Regions from separate parts of the Homo sapiens genome. Here region 2 is linked to region 1. Evidence: fine-mapped expression QTL. Tissue or cell type: whole blood. Region 1 holds a variant in brackets; the other region holds the start of a gene. All regions are shown on one strand. Distances are between the middles of the regions.

Evidence for each region. PIP is the estimated chance that this variant, and not a neighbour inherited with it, causes the effect.
Region 2: INSR starts here. The variant in region 1 is fine-mapped to the expression of INSR in whole blood (TOPMed, PIP above 0.99). The same link has a PIP of 0.9 or more in cerebellar hemisphere, cerebellum, cerebral cortex, lung, nasal epithelium and subcutaneous fat.

Annotation. Positions count from the first base shown.
Region 1 is chr19:7,122,397-7,130,500 of GRCh38, reverse strand. INSR (insulin receptor) reads left to right here. Exons shown (of 22, transcript NM_000208.4): 15 at 1,547-1,649; 16 at 3,850-3,917; 17 at 4,974-5,218; 18 at 7,512-7,622; 19 at 7,728-7,887. Among named protein-coding and RNA genes, the nearest start is that of ZNF557, 57 kb to the right of the region's middle. The variant C/T (reference allele first, on the strand shown) is at 4,993.
Region 2 is chr19:7,290,274-7,298,364 of GRCh38, reverse strand. It overlaps INSR (insulin receptor), which reads left to right and starts at 3,951. Exons shown (of 22, transcript NM_000208.4): 1 at 3,951-4,573. The coding sequence starts at 4,474. RefSeq lists silencers at 3,370-3,549, 3,690-4,079, 4,100-4,379, 4,520-4,659, 4,710-4,769 and an enhancer at 4,751-5,509.

The DNA.
Region 1 (8,104 bases):
CGCCTCCATGATCCAATCACCTCCCACCCGGCCACTCCTCCAACATTGGGGATTACATTTCAACAAGAGCTTTGGGTGGGGACACAGATCCAAACCATAGCAGTCCCGGTGTCTACTGTTCACTTCTTTCTGTCCATGTGTGGTCAGTGTCTCACTCTCACTTATGGGTGAGAACATGAGGTAGTTGGTTTTCTGTCCCTGTGTTAATTCAGTTAGGATAATCACCTCCAGCTCCATTCATGTTGCTGCAAAGAACATGATCTCATTCTTTTTCATGGCTGTGTAGTATTCCATGGTGTGTATGTATCACATTTTCTTTATCTGGCAATCCTGCACTTCCTCATCTGTACATGGAGATAATAACAGAACCACTTCAGGAGGTGGAGGGACATTTTAATGACACAAATGTTAAGTGCCTGGCACCTGTTGCTAGTGTCTCCATCTTTGTTACTAGAGTTTTTTGGCTAGATGAGGTGGCTCACACCTGTAATCCCAGAACTTTGGGAGGCTGAGGCAACAGGATTGCTTGAGGACAGGCATTAGAGACCAGCCTGAGCAACATAGCGAGACTCTGTCTCCACAAAAAAATACAAAAATTAGCCAGCTATGGTGGTGCATGCTTGTAATCCCAGGTACTTGGGAGGCTGAGACAGGGGGATCACTTGGGCCCAGGAATTTGAGGTTGCGGTGAACTGTGATTGTGCCACTGTACTCCAGCCTGGGTGACAGAGTAAGACCCTGTCTCTAAAAAATAAAAATTAAAAGAAGTTTACATCTGTCAAAAGTCATGCTGGGATCGGGACTAGCTATGTAATTTGCAAGACCCAGTGAACAATGAAAATGCAGAACTCCTTGCTTTAAAATTATTAAGAATTTGGCCGGGCACGTTGGCTCACGCCTGTCATCCCAGTACTTTCGGAGGCTGAGGCGGGAGGATCACCTGAGGTCAGGAGTTTGAGGCCAGCCTGGCCAGCAAGGTGAAACCCTGTCTCTATTAAAAATACAAAAATTAGCCGGGTGTGGTGGTGCATGCCTGTAGTCCCAGCTACTTGGGAGGCTGAGGCAGGAGAATCACTTGAACCCGAAAGGAGGAGGTTCCAGTGAGCCGAGATCGTGCCACTGAACTCTAGCCTGGGTGTCAGAGCAAGACTCTGTCACAAAAATAAGTAAATAAATAAAAATTAAAATAAAATGAATAAGCATTTCAGAGGGGCAACAGCAGAGCATTAAACTGACAGAAAAGGGTCCTGCATCCACTGCCTGAGATGTGGGAGGGATGGAAATGAGCAGTGATTTGGGGCAGGGGTGGGGAAGAGTGTGCTTCCAGAATACTGACCTCTGAGCCCACTGCCTGGTCCCACTGCACCTACGGGACTGTTTCGGGACTGCTGGAAAATCAGGATGTGGAAGAGCAGCAGAGAGGTTTATGGACAAGGGAGGGAAGGAACAGGGTGGCCCACCCATTCCAGGAGTGGATGTGATTTTTGATGTGAACTTTGTTGGAAACACATTGATATGAAACATATATTTTCTTATTCTATTTCAGTAGACGTCCCGTCAAATATTGCAAAAATTATCATCGGCCCCCTCATCTTTGTCTTTCTCTTCAGTGTTGTGATTGGAAGTATTTATCTATTCCTGAGAAAGAGGTGAGTTCAGTGAGTTCAGTGGTGTGCTGGGAACAGTTGGTTCTCTGGGGGAAAACATGCCTTGATATAGGTATAGGCATATTTAAGTTTATTATGAATTTTGCTGATATAGGATGTGTAACATGCAATTTACAGATAATTGTCATAATATGATATACACAACTCTTTATTGTAAATTCCCTCTAGACAGTTGATTCTCACAGAATGTTTTTATTGATTTTTTTTTTTGCCCAAACCTTTATATCCGAAGCTAACCTATTATTGCAATTGATAAACAAGTAAAGCTCCAATGTGAATGTTGATTAATTTTTCAAAATTTACATTAAGGAGTAGGACTTGACTGGGCACAGTGGCTCACACCTGTAATGCTAGCACTTTGGGAGGCCAAGGCGGGTGAATCACCTGAGGTCAGGAGTTTGAGACCAGCCTGGCCAACATGGTGAAACCTCGTCTCTACTAAAAATACTAAAAAATTAACCGGGCATGGTGGTGGGCGCCTGTAATCCCAGCTACTCAGGAGGCTGAGGCAGGAGAATTACTGAACCCTGGTGGCGGAGGTTGCAGTGAGCTGAAATCGCACCATTGCATTCTAGCCTGGGCGACAGAGGGAGACTCCGTCTCGGGAAAAAAAAAAAAAGTAGGACAAAACTGAAATAAGACATATATGTTCATCAGTGATATGAGTGACGTCTTTGCTGAGTCAGATGGTAATTTTTAAATATCAGAAGAACATTTTGTGCCACATGCAACATCACAGTTGCAGACATGACACGCTTTTAAGTTTAATCTACATGATTAAACATTTTTCTCAGCTGGGCACGGTGGCTCACACCTGTAATCCCAACACTTTGGGAGGCCGAGGCGGGCGGATCATGAGGTCAGGAGTTCGAGACCAGCCTGACCAACATGGTGAAACCCCGTCTCTACTAAAAATACAAAAATTAGCAAGGTGTGGTGATGTGCGCCTGTAATCCCAGCTTCTCAGGAGGCTGAGGCAGGAGAATCGCTTGAACCCAGGAGGCAGAGGTTGCAGTGAGCCGAGATCGCACCATTGCACTCCAGCCTGGGCAACAGAGTGAGACTTTGTCTCAAAAACAAAACAAAACAAAAAAATATTTTTCTCATCACTTTCTCAAGCCTGGACAAACAACAGAACAACAAATCCAGTCCTGAGTTATAGCATTTGCCAGTTTCTGTAATGTAAATATTCCCAGGATGTCTAAATTCAAGCTGTAGACATAATATTACTGAGTGCAGTGTTAGAAAGAGATACATAATAGCTCCCCATTGAATCCACCCTATGGATACAATATGGTGTATAAATGATATAATGTAAATAACCTCAACTGCATTGATCATATTTAAATGTAGTATGAGAGTTAGGAAGTGATGAGTTTTGAACATGTATTGTCTTTGCTTTTAGGATAATTTATTTAATTGTAAGCCTCTATAATTTATATTTTTTGTTCTATTTGGAAGGCATTGTACAATTTAATCTTTAATGATGCTTGTATTTAACAACTGGCTCACTAGTTTCCTGAAAATTTAATAATTGTTTCTCATCAGTCGGGATGAGCTCGCTCTAGAACAGTACTGGGTGAGTGGCTTTTAAGTGTTACATGGATGGCCATAAATTATTTAAAAAGCCAGCCAGAGCCCTGCATGGTCGTGCATATCTGTAGTCCCAGCCGCTCGGGAGGATGAGGCAGGAGGATCACTTGAGACCAAGAGTTCAAGACCAGCCTGGGCAACATAGTGAGACCCTGTCTATATGAAATTTTACAAATTAGCCAGGTGTGGTGGTGAGCACCTGTATTCCCAGCTATTCAGAAAGCTGAAGTGGGAGGATCTCTGGAGCCCAGAAGGTTAAGACTGCAGTGAGCTATGATTATACCACTGCCCTCCAGCCACAACAGAGCAAGACTGCAACTCTGAAATGTAAAAACAAAAACAAAAACAAAACAAAAAAAAAACCACCCAGGGAGGGATGAGTGCTCCCATGTTGATGCACTTACATACCTGTCTGATGGGCTTCCATTCAAAACATAAAGGTCCCCCATCCCTGCCCTAGACTGCATCTAGGATTATGGGGATTCTGCTGGTAAGGGCTGCCATTTGCCTTGGGGAGTCTTGTATGAAACACCTTTCTGCAGAGTCCCATGAGAATCTCAAGCTAACGTGCCTCGTTTTCCTCCTCCAGGCAGCCAGATGGGCCGCTGGGACCGCTTTACGCTTCTTCAAACCCTGAGTATCTCAGTGCCAGTGATGGTGAGTACCATCCCTTCCCTGTGGGTGGCCAGAACCCTACTCATCAGCTTCCTTTGCCTTCACCATTGAGTGAGAGTGAAGGATGGGTTCCCCAGGGAGGCCAAGAAAAGCCCTCTTATTCATTTGAGCTTGCCAAACTGCCCTTGCTGCAGAAACCTCATTACTGTGTGCATCTGGACACATGGTATTTGGCACCTGCCTGAATGGGCTCATCTAGCCGGTCTGGGACCCTTGGGCAGGGTCGACCACTTGGGCTGGGCTCAGCTGGGCAGTTCTTCTGGTCTTGCCTGGCTTCACCCATGTAGCTACATTTTGCTGGTGTGTCAGCTAGCACTCGGTAGTCTTAGATGATTTCACTCACATGTCTGGTGGTCAGTAGGCTGGGTGGTCCCAAGGTGGGGGCCCTAAGCTGGGGGAGGCTGAGCCTCACTCTGTCCATCTAGCCTCTTAGGCTCCAGCAGGCTGGCTCAGGCTTCATTCCATGGTCCTCTGTTGGTTCCTAGTAGAAAGCTCCAGGGCAAGCTCCAGGGCAACAGTCCATTCCAAATCTCTGCTTGGACAATTCTTGTTGATTCCCATTGACCAAAATAACTCACAAGGCCATGCCCAGGGCCAAGGGGTGGTGAGATAGACTCCACCTTTTCATGGGAAGAGCTCCAAGTATCCTGGCTTTTTTTTTCCCCAACCTATTACAACCTGTCTTCCATCCCCTTGGCACTTTGCAGAAACAGTAGTCTCAGGTGGGAAGTAGCATCATTCCATAGCAAGGGTCTGAAATCAGACAAGAAGGATGGGGATGCAGGTTTGCCTCAGGACATATTGGCCAGGATCTTGGACCAGTTGTGGCTCCTTCCTTGAGTCTCTGCCATGCCCTCTCCATGGGTGCAGATGCCTGTCCTGTTCTCGGCCATATGCCCAGTGCCCGGCATGGGTCCTGGATCACAGAACTCATTTCATGAGTGTTTTCGAGGGGGTTTGGGTGAGGGCTTGGGTGGAAGGTGGCTGCAGACCCCCAAGGGATCCTCCAAGGATGCTGTGTAGATAAGTAAGAAGTAGTGTTTCCATGCTCTGTGTA[C/T]GTGCCGGACGAGTGGGAGGTGTCTCGAGAGAAGATCACCCTCCTTCGAGAGCTGGGGCAGGGCTCCTTCGGCATGGTGTATGAGGGCAATGCCAGGGACATCATCAAGGGTGAGGCAGAGACCCGCGTGGCGGTGAAGACGGTCAACGAGTCAGCCAGTCTCCGAGAGCGGATTGAGTTCCTCAATGAGGCCTCGGTCATGAAGGGCTTCACCTGCCATCACGTGGTGAGTCCAGTGGGGGTGGGACATGGGCTGGCTTTCCTGACCCTTCCCTTTCTCTGCCTCCTCCTCCTGCACAGAGCGACAGAGGACACAGGGTGTAACCTCCTACCCACCCCTCACTCCACTAAGCTTCCCATCCTAGAGGTGTGAGGAGGGATCATTCCCTTCTCAAATCCCATCCTCTCCCACTTCGCCTGGAACCAGACTCTATCACTGTCTCATCACTTTCTGGAATGTTTCATTGCTTTCCAGAATCTTTCATCACTTTCTGGAATCTTCCATCATTTTCTGGAATCTTCCACCACTTTCCGGAATCTTCCATCATTTTCCACAATCTTCCATTGCTTTTTAGACTCTTCCATTTCTTGCTTTTTCCTGGCACCTTTGTAACCCAGGACCACATAGAGGTCCACCTGATACCACCTGCCCTCGTTCCTACTCTCCTTTGAAGGCAGCACCAACTCTTCCTGCCTTTCTGCTCCTTTGTTCCTCTTTGAGTCCTATGTGCTTTCATCCTTGCCACACATATTTATGGGGCATTTAAAGCCCTGCTCTTGTCCCTGTGATACAGTGGATACCTGCCCCTGTAGAGCTTCCAAAACAGCAGGCGGAGACAGACTCCAAAACCTTTATTTTTATTTTATTTCATATATATATATATATATATATATATATATATATATATATATATATATATTTTTTTTTTTTTTTTTTTTTTTTTTTTTTTTTTTTTTTTTTTTTTTTCCTGAAACGGAGTCTCGCTTTGTTGTGCAGGCTGGAGTGCAGTGGCACAATCTCAGCTCACTGCAAGCTCCACCTCCTGGATTCACACTATTCTCCTGCCTCAGCCTCCCGAGTAGCTGGGACTACAGGCGCCTGCTACCACGCCTGGCTGATTGTTTTTTTTTTTTTTTTTTGAGATGGAGTCTCACTCTGTCACCCAGGCTGGAGTGCAGTGGCATGATCTCAGCTCACTGCAACCTCTGCCTGCTGGATTCAAGCAATTATCCTGCCTCAGCCTCCCGAGTAGCTGGGACTGCAGGTGCCTGCCACCACGCCCAGCTAATGCTTTTTATACTTTTTTTTATTAGAGACGGGGTTTCACCATGCTGGCCAGGCTGGTCTTGAACTCCTGACCTCGTGATCCACCCGCCTTGGCCTCCCAAAGTGCTGGGATTACAGGCGTGAGCCACCACGCCCAGTGCCTGGCTAATTTTTTTGTATTTTCAGTAGAGACGGGGTTTCACTGTGTTAGCCAGGATGGTCTCGATCTCCTGACCTCATGATCCGCCTGCCTTGGCCTCCCAAAGTGCTGGGATTACAGGCGTGAGCCACCACGCCCAGCCTATTTTTATATATTTTTAAGACAGAGTCTCTCTCTGTCGCCCAGAGTGGAGTGCAGTGGCACAATCTCGGCTCACTGCAACCTCTGCCTCCCAGGTTCAAGCAATTCTCCTGCCGCGGCCTCCTGAGTAGCTGGGATAACAGGAGCCCACCACCACACCCAGCTAATTTTTGTATTTTTAGTAGAGATGGGGTTTCGCCATGTTGGCCAGGCTGGTCTCGAACTCCTGAATTCAGGTGATCCACCGGCCTCAGCCTCCCAAAGTGCTGGGATTACAGGCATAAGCCACCACCCCCAGCTGACTCCAAACCCTTTATACATTAGGAGCAAATGCTATGGAAACATGAAGAAAGGGAGGAAAGGAGGGTTGGACAGGGGTGTATTTGAGCAAAGACTTAGAGGACATGAGGAGCTGGGCCCTGTGGATGTGGCAGGGAACAGAGAGCCAGGCAGAGGGAATGATTAAAATACAAAGGCCTGGCTGGGTGCAGTGGCTATAATCCCAGCACTTTGGGAGGCTGAGGCAGGCGGATCACCAGAGGTCAGGAGTTCAAGACCAGCCTGACCAACATGGAGAAATCCTGTCTCTACTAAAAATACAAAAATTAGCCGGGTGTGGAGGCGGGCACCTGTAACCCCAGCTACTCGGGAGACTGAGGCAGGAGAATTGCTTGAACCCGGGAGGCAAAGGTTGCAGTGAGCCGAGATCACGCCACTGCACTCTAGCCTGGGTAACAGCAAGATTCCGTCTCGAAAATTAAAAAAAAAAAAATACAAAGGCCTATCTGTCTGCTGTCCGGGCAGGTATGTCTGCTCTCCTAGACCAGGGCTGAGCACGCTGCATCCAGGCCACAGGGTGCTGTGTGTGACATAGACACCAGGGAGGGAGGAGAACCCTGGTGAGTCGAATCACGGACCCTCCTCCAAGAACCCTGGTTGCTTGCTCTGCAGGTGCGCCTCCTGGGAGTGGTGTCCAAGGGCCAGCCCACGCTGGTGGTGATGGAGCTGATGGCTCACGGAGACCTGAAGAGCTACCTCCGTTCTCTGCGGCCAGAGGCTGAGGTAAGCTGCTTCGGGGGACCCAGCGGGGTACTCGGTGGAGCACCCGCTCCTGGCCTCCTCGGATCCCAGTGCTGCTGAAACACCAACCCCGTGTTTCTGTTTTAGAATAATCCTGGCCGCCCTCCCCCTACCCTTCAAGAGATGATTCAGATGGCGGCAGAGATTGCTGACGGGATGGCCTACCTGAACGCCAAGAAGTTTGTGCATCGGGACCTGGCAGCGAGAAACTGCATGGTCGCCCATGATTTTACTGTCAAAATTGGAGGTTCGTCTGGCTTTCTGCTTTGAAAACATAACGACCCAGGCCAGGTTTGATTTCAGAAGGAAGTTGTCTATAATGAGCCGTTAAGTCTTTTCTGATAATATAAAGGGGCAAGATACTTCTTTTTTTTTTGTGGGGTTTTTTTTGTTTTGTTTTGTCTTTTTGTTTTTGAGACGGAGTCTTACTCTGTCTGTTGCCCAGGCTGGAGTGCAGTGGTGTG
Region 2 (8,091 bases), 170 kb before region 1:
AAAAGAAAATCACAAGGAAGAGAAAATACATTTACAGTTACAGAACGCTACAATATTTATCAATGCCATAAATTTGTTTACAAGATGAATTGTCTGTCTGAAGCAGACAACCGCAGCTGTAGAGCTCCATTTATGTTACGTAGCAAGCAATTCAACTTTTTCTTGTCCTGTCCTGACTTTTCTCTGCTTCTCGGGAGCATTTCCAGCATCACTAGTGGCACTTTACATGGGTCTCAGGATGTTATTCAATGTTTGCGGTATTGCACTAAACACAGTGAAAAATACGCGGGAACCGCCAAGAGATCCCTTTTTACCGGGGCACAAATTCCTGGAGAGGTGAACTGCCCACAGGGAGATAATTAATGTAACATGGCATTTAAAGCGGATACTTGCAACACTTGCACTCACTCCAGTAGCAACAGGAGGTGGCTATGAAATTGTTACAATAACACAATATATTCTATAGTTAATTTTATGCAGTTATGATTGAATGCTGCATCTTTACATTTATTTACATTTCTCTTGACTTGGAATAACACCATGTATGGTTTGTAAGTGTGTGTGTACGTTTTAATACATTTTAACTTTTTGTAACAGATTTGTGTATATTTTATGTTAGCAAATTATAAAATAGGGCTGGACATGGTGGCTTATACCTGTAATCTCGGCACTGTGGGAGGTAGAGGCAGGAGGATCACTTGAGTTCAGGAGTTAGAGACCAGCCTGGGCAACATGGTGAGACCTCGTCTCTATAAAAAGTAAAAAAATTAGCCGGGCGTGTTGGTGCTTGCCAGGAAGATCGCTTGAACCCAGGAGTTGGAGGTTACAGTGAGCCATGATTGGGCCACTGCTCTCCAGCCTGGGCAACAGAGCAAGACCCTGTCTCTAAAAGAAAATAATAACAAAAATAATAAAACAGACTAGTATCTACATATATTTTATGCATTCATGACATACCTAATTTTTTTTTAATATTTCTTGGCTACCAAGTTCATCTGCAAGTCTTTTCAAACTATTGCAAATCTCTAAAAATGTTTCCAATATATTTATTGAAAAACATTCTGTTTAAAGATGACCTCACTTTGGGAGGCTGATCAGATCAGCTGAGGTCAGGAGTTCGATACCAGCCTGGCCAACATGGTAAAATCCCGTCTGTACTAAAAATACAAAAATTAACCGGGTGAGGTGGCGTGTGCCTGTAGTCCCAGATACTTGGGAAGCTGAGGCAGGAGAATAGCTTGAACCCTGGAGGTGGAGATTGCAGTGAGCTGAGATTGCTCCACTGCACTCCAGCCAGGGTGACAGAGCGAGACTCTGCCTCAAAAAAAAAAAAAAAAAAGATGTGCACGGTTCAAACTCATGTTCAAGGGCCCACTGCAGTTCTCACCCATGGCTTCACTTTCTCCTCTTTCTTTTCTGCAGCTACAGTGAATGCCTGGTTCAGTTGCAAGAATGCCTTGCCCACTCTCCTCTGGGCCTTTGCTCATGCCTTCCCCCACCTGAAACACATCCCTATGGCTTCCCTAGGATGGCTCCTCTTCATTTTCAGACTTAAGCTCAAAATCACATCCTCAGTCAGGTGCAGTGGCTCACGCGTCTGTAATCCCAGCAATTAGGGAGACCGAGACAGGCAGATCTCTTGAGGTCAGGAGTTCAAGACCAGCCTGTCCAATATGGTGAAACCCTGCCTCTACTAAAAATACAAAAATTAGGCAGGCGTGGTGGCATGCACCTGTAATCCCAGCTACTCTGGAGGCTGAGGCAGGAGAATTGCTTGAACCTGGGAGGCGGAGGTTGCAGTGAGCCAAGATCGTGCCACTGCACTCCAGCCTGGGCAACAGAGTAAGATCCATCAAAAAACAAACAAACAAAAAACCCCATGTCCTCAGCAAACCCCTCCCTATGCACCTCCCATTTCCCTCAGCTCATTACACACTCAATTATTTTAAGGGCTCTCTCCCTGGCTCAGTTGTGAACTCCATAAGGAAATGGGTCATGTTTATTTTGCTCACTGAAAAATCCCCTATTACTTATTGCTTGTTGATTCTCCCACTCAACAAATATTTATTAAGCAACAGATTTGTCAGGCACTGGGTTTAAGCAGTGAAACAAGACCGAAAAGATTTCCGCCTTCACGGGAAGGGGAGAAGACACAGAAAACGAATAAGAATTTCAAGGCCAATCATGGTGGCGCATGCCTGTAATCCTAGCACCTTGGGAGGCCAAGGCAGGAGGATTGCTTGAGGCCAGGAGTTCAAGGCTGCAGTAAGCTAGGATTGCACCACTGCATTCCTGCCTGGGTGACAGCAAGATTCTGTCAAAAGGAAAAAAAAAGAAAGAAAAGAAAAAAAAAAAACAAACAATTGCAGGTAGTGGGGTAAACATGCTATGAAAATGAGAGAGAAGGGGCCAGGCGCAGTGGCTCAGGCCTGTAATCCCAGCACTTTGGGAGGCCAAGGCCGGTGGATCACCTGAGGTCAGGAGTTTGAGACCGGCCAGGCCAACATGGTGAAATCCTGTCTCTACTAAAAATACAGAAAATTAGCTGGGTGTGCTGGCGCATGCCTGTAATCCAAGTTACTTGGGAGGTTGAGGCAGGAGAATCACTTGAACCCAGGCAGGTGATGTTGCAGTGAACTGAGATCTGGCCATTGCACTCCAGCCTGGGCAACAGAGAAAAACTCCATCTAAAAAAAAAAAAAAAAAAAAAAAAAAAAAAAAAAAAAAAAAAACAGAGAGAGAGAGAGAGAGAAGGAAACGGAACTGGGGGGAGGATTTGCAAAAATATGGTTAGGGATGGCACTTCAGAGATGAAGCCATCCTGGAGTGTTACGGGCAAGGGAAATGCTGGGGCAAAGGCCCAGAGGCAGGAATAGGTTTGGCCTGTTGCATGAACAGTGGGTCCAGCTCCTAGCAAACTGTTTATTGAATGAAAGAAGAATGAATGCCTTGGGTCTAGGGTTGTGCTGGGCGCTTTCTTAAGTTTTCTTTCCCGGGTACCTCCCCAGAACTGGCATGCAGGTATTATTAAACCCATTACACAAGTGAAACTGGCCCAGAGACAGAAAAGTCCCTGGTCCAAGACCACACAGGAGTGAGGGGTGGAGGAACCCTCCTCCCATTGAGTTCTGGCTTTCCTATACTGAAAGCCCCTTCCTCTCCTGCAGTAAGGTAGGTGGAACCGCTGTCCCGCCTTGTTGGTGAATGTCGTTGCTAGACTTCAGACACATACAGGCTGGTCTGCTGAAAATCAGAGATGTCCACCTGCGCCCTATTCGAGGTCTCCGGCGTCTTCTTTGGCGTCGTCTTTGCCCTTTCAGAAGCGTCTGCACATTTTTCCAGGTGTCATTTCTCCAACTTGAACACAGGGAGCGCACTGGGCACGCGGGCACGTGGCTGTCCCCAGGGGCCTGGCTTGGGTCTCGCCCCTGGGCCGGGGCGCACTCGCGGGCGGGACATCTGGGGGCGCCCACGCGCTCTGGGACGAGTGTCGCTGGCCAGGCCCGGACTGAGGAAAGGCGAGTGAGACACTACTCGCCTGGGGTGCAAAATTTAAGGGAGTGAAAAAAAAAAAAAAAGAAAGAAACCAAAACCACCTCGAGTCACCAAAATAAACATTTTAATGCAGTATTTTTTAAAAAATCAACAGGAATCCTCCAAAGCCCACTATGAACAAAATAGCAAAATGGTAGAGAAAGGATCTGTGCCGCTGCGTCGGGCCTGTGGGGCGCCTCCGGGGGTCTGAAACTGGAGGAGACTCGGGGCTGTAGGGCGCGCGGATCTGGGGCGCGCCCTCGGTCCCGGCGCGCCCAGGGCCTCCCGCGCGGGGCCCGGCACAGGGAGGCGGGGAGGCGGGCGGGGCGGGGCGGGGCCGGGCGGCACCTCCCTCCCCTGCAAGCTTTCCCTCCCTCTCCTGGGCCTCTCCCGGGCGCAGAGTCCCTTCCTAGGCCAGATCCGCGCCGCCTTTTCCCGCGGCCCGCACGGGGCCCAGCTGACGGGCCGCGTTGTTTACGGGCCCGAGCAGCCCTCTCTCCCGCCGCCCGCCCGCCACCCGCCAGCCCAGGTGCCCGCCCGCCAGTCAGCTAGTCCGTCGGTCCGCGCGTCCCTCTGTCCCGGAGCCCGCAGATCGCGACCCAGAGCGCGCGGGGCCGAGAGCCGAGAGACAGTCCCGGGCGCAGCGCGGAGCTCCGGGCCCCGAGATCCTGGGACGGGGCCCGGGCCGCAGCGGCCGGGGGGTCGGGGCCACCACCGCAAGGGCCTCCGCTCAGTATTTGTAGCTGGCGAAGCCGCGCGCGCCCTTCCCGGGGCTGCCTCTGGGCCCTCCCCGGCAGGGGGGCTGCGGCCCGCGGGTCGCGGGCGTGGAAGAGAAGGACGCGCGGCCCCCAGCGCCTCTTGGGTGGCCGCCTCGGAGCATGACCCCCGCGGGCCAGCGCCGCGCGCTCTGATCCGAGGAGACCCCGCGCTCCCGCAGCCATGGCCACCGGGGGCCGGCGGGGGGCGGCGGCCGCGCCGCTGCTGGTGGCGGTGGCCGCGCTGCTACTGGGCGCCGCGGGCCACCTGTACCCCGGAGAGGGTGAGTCTGGGGGCGCGGGCGTGGGCGGGGAGCGCCGCGATGGGGAGAGGACCCCACCCAAGCCAAAATCGAGCCCCCGCTTGTGGACTGAGAACCCTCCCCAGGGGCGGGGGGCGGTGGCCAGGACGGTAGCTCCTGCATCGCGTAGGGGGAGCGGGAAGCCTCTGACCTTGGCCTTTGCCCGCCCGGGCTCGCGCCTCCGCGCCCTGCGTGCCCGACCTGAGCCCGAGGAACCTTGCCCCGGTGCCCGCCCCGCCGCGGGCTCCTCTCTGGAGCGCGCCTCCGACCCGTGCCCCGGCCCCTCCGAGCCCAAGTCGCTCCGGAGACACGACACGCGTCATCTTTGGGTCGCGGCCGGGAAGTGGGGTCACTGGGTCTGGACAGCCCCGAACAGCCAAGTCCCCCGAGCGCATATGGTGTAGGTAGAGCCAAGCGCCCTGAGTGCCTCACCGGTGGGTGACGCTGCCTGGGGTCAGGGACTGCAGAGCCCCCCTCTACCCAACTACCTTGGATCTAGGCCCGTGGCCACCCCGGACTCTAGGTCCATGTTTACCCTTTTGGGTTCTGTTTCCAGATGTCCGGAGGCAAATTCTAAAGCCTTAGCAACAGCAGCAATTGTAGCAGAAGTAGTGGCGGTTTTTTACCCTATTTATTGTAATTGGTATCACCGCACGCCACAGCCTAGTCTATCTTATCTCTCTGGACTGTCACAGTGGCCCCCGGAGGCAGATACAGTTATGCACCCATTTCACAGAGGAGTAAACTGAGGCTCATGTAGGACGCATAACTCCCTTGCCCTAAAGTCAGTGCCAGAGCCAGGACTTGAGCCTCTGTGTGTCCCGTTCTGCCCAAGAATCTGGACTACTGTCCCTTGTCTGCTGTCTCCTTGACCCCTCCTCTCCCCTCAGCCCTGCGCTTCATGAAGGAGCCTTTGACCTTGAGTGAGCCTTTCGTTCCCCCTGACCCCATGGGCCCCTCTCCCACGTGTGGGCAGCATCTTCCTTGGGCTTGACAATAGGCACCTTTGGGGTTGTAAGATGAAGATGGCGCAATCATTTAAGGAATATAGCCTGGGTTTCCCACTGTGGGGTCTGAGGCCCTGCTTTAAAAATATCTGTTGGGTTACTGTTTCAGATTTCTCCATAAAAGGAAATCAGTCGTGATGAGGAAGGGGTCAGGGAGGGAAGGAATTGAAGCTCTTAAATGTATTGATGGGGAAACGGGTGCATGTAAAATCAGGTGCTAGAGTGGACCAACCGGGTTTGCTGAGTCGACTCTGTCAATCACATAATGTCTAAAAGCCCCGGGCCCACCCCCCCCCAGCCCCGCCCCCAGGTGCCTGGGAGACAGTAGGTGCTCAATGAAGGGTGGCGGTTAGTTGGAGTTCTTGTTAAGAAAATCTGGCCAGCTGCGGTGGCTCAAGCCTGTAATCTCAGCATTTTGGGAGGCTGAGGCGGGCGGATCACGAGGTCAGGAGATGGAGACCATCCTGGCCAACATGGTGAAACTCCCTTCTCTGCTCAAAATACAAAAATTACCTGGGTTTGGTGGCGTTCGCCTGTAGTCCCAGCTACTTGGGAGGCTGAGGCGGGACAATTGCTTGAACCCGGGAGGAGGAGGTTGCTGTGAGCTCAGATGGCACCACTGCACTCCAGCCTGGCCAAAGAGCGAGACTTTGTCTCAAAAAAATAAAAAAAAAGGCGGGGCGTGGTGGCTCACGCTTGTAATCCCAGCACTTTGGGAGGCCGAGGCGGGTGGATCACCAGTTCAGGAGATCACGACCATCCTGGCTAACACGGTAAAACCCTGTCTCTACTGAAAAATAGAAAAAATTAGCCGGGCGTGGTGGCGGGCGCCTGTAGTCCCAGCTATTCCGGAGGCTGAGGCAGGAGAATGGCGTAAACCCGGGAGGCGGAGCTTGCAGTGAGCCAAGATCGTGCCACTGGGCGACAGAGCGAGACTCTGTCTCAAAAATAAATAAATAAATAAAAAGAAAATCCAAGATGAGTGGTTTCGAACTATGCCAGATTCTATGTGTGCGTGTGTGTGGTTCCCTGTTCTTCTGTTCCTTGTAGCTTTGGTAATTAATTGTGGATCTGTGCCTGGGCTTTCAGGGTCAGTAAATGGATTTACCATTTCTTTGCACATTTATGGCTTCCATATGGGCAGGGGTTTATGGTTTGTTGTTGTTCACCGTTGCATTTCTAGAGCCCAGAACGATGCCTGGCACATAGTAGGTGTTCAGTAAATATTTGTTCTGCAGTGGGGCACAAGTGGTGGAGTTCCTGGGTGTACTGGGCTCCTTTATCATCTTAAGGAGTTCCTTATTCTCTGCATAATACCTTCCTAAGAATTAGAAGAGCAAGCTCTCAGCAGGTGCTGTTCTATGCGCTTTGCATATATAATCTCAGTTAATCCTCACGGCAAAACCCCACGAGGTGCGGTTTAATCTTCCCTTTTCACAAGTGAGAAAACTTCGCTTGAGGCCAGCAGGCAGCAGGGCTGGGATTGCAATCTAGCTAGTGTGGCTGCAGAGCAATGGTTTCTTAACAAATCTTTGTTCTTTTGAGTCCGAGCCTCCGTACCCCCCACGATTGGGGTGATGGTGAACAAAATCCTGTCAAATAAATGGGCTGTGATGCCTCTTGAAGGCTTGGGGAGGGGCAAAGAACTTTTCAGATCATTAATCTCTAATGTCAACCAATATGGCTTTTTTTTTTTTGAGACGGAGTCTTGCTCTGTCACCCAGGCTGGAGTGCAGTGGCACGATCTCAGCTCACTGCAACCTCCACCTCCCAGGTTCAAGGGATTCTCCTGCCTCAGCCTCCCCAGTAGCTGGGATTACAGGCGTGTTCCACAACACCGGCTTATTTTTTGTATTTTTAGTAGAGACAGGGCTTTGCTGTGTTAGCCAGGATGGTCTCGACCTCCTGATCTTGTGATCCACCCGCCTCGGCCTCCCAAAGTGTTGGGATTACAGGAGTGAGCCACCGTACCTGGCCTTTTTTTTTTTCTTTTTTTTTTTTGAGACAGGGTGTCACTCTGTCACCCGGGCTGGAGTGCAGTGACACGATCTTTGCGACCTCCGCCTTTCAGGTTCAAGTGCATCTCCTGCCTCAGCCTCCTGAGTAGCTGGGATTACAGTCGTGTATCACCACCCTTGGCTAATTTTTGTATTTTTAGTAGAGATGGGATTTCGCCATATTGGTTAGGCTGGTCTCAAACTTCTGACCTCAAGTGATCTGCCTGCCTCGGCCTTCCAAAGACCTGGGATTATAGGTGTGAGCCATCACTCCGGGCCCAATATGGCATTTTGATTGGGATGAAGGGTGGAGGAAAATCAGTGTGATTTTTGTATCTATCTCTCTAGCTATCTATTATTTTTTGAGATGAGGTCTTGCTCTGTTGCTTAGGCTGGAGTGCAGTTGGGCAATGATGGCTCACTGCAGCCTCGACCTCCTGGACGCAAGCCATCCTCCTATTTTAGCCTCCGTAGTAGCTGGGACCACAGGCACACG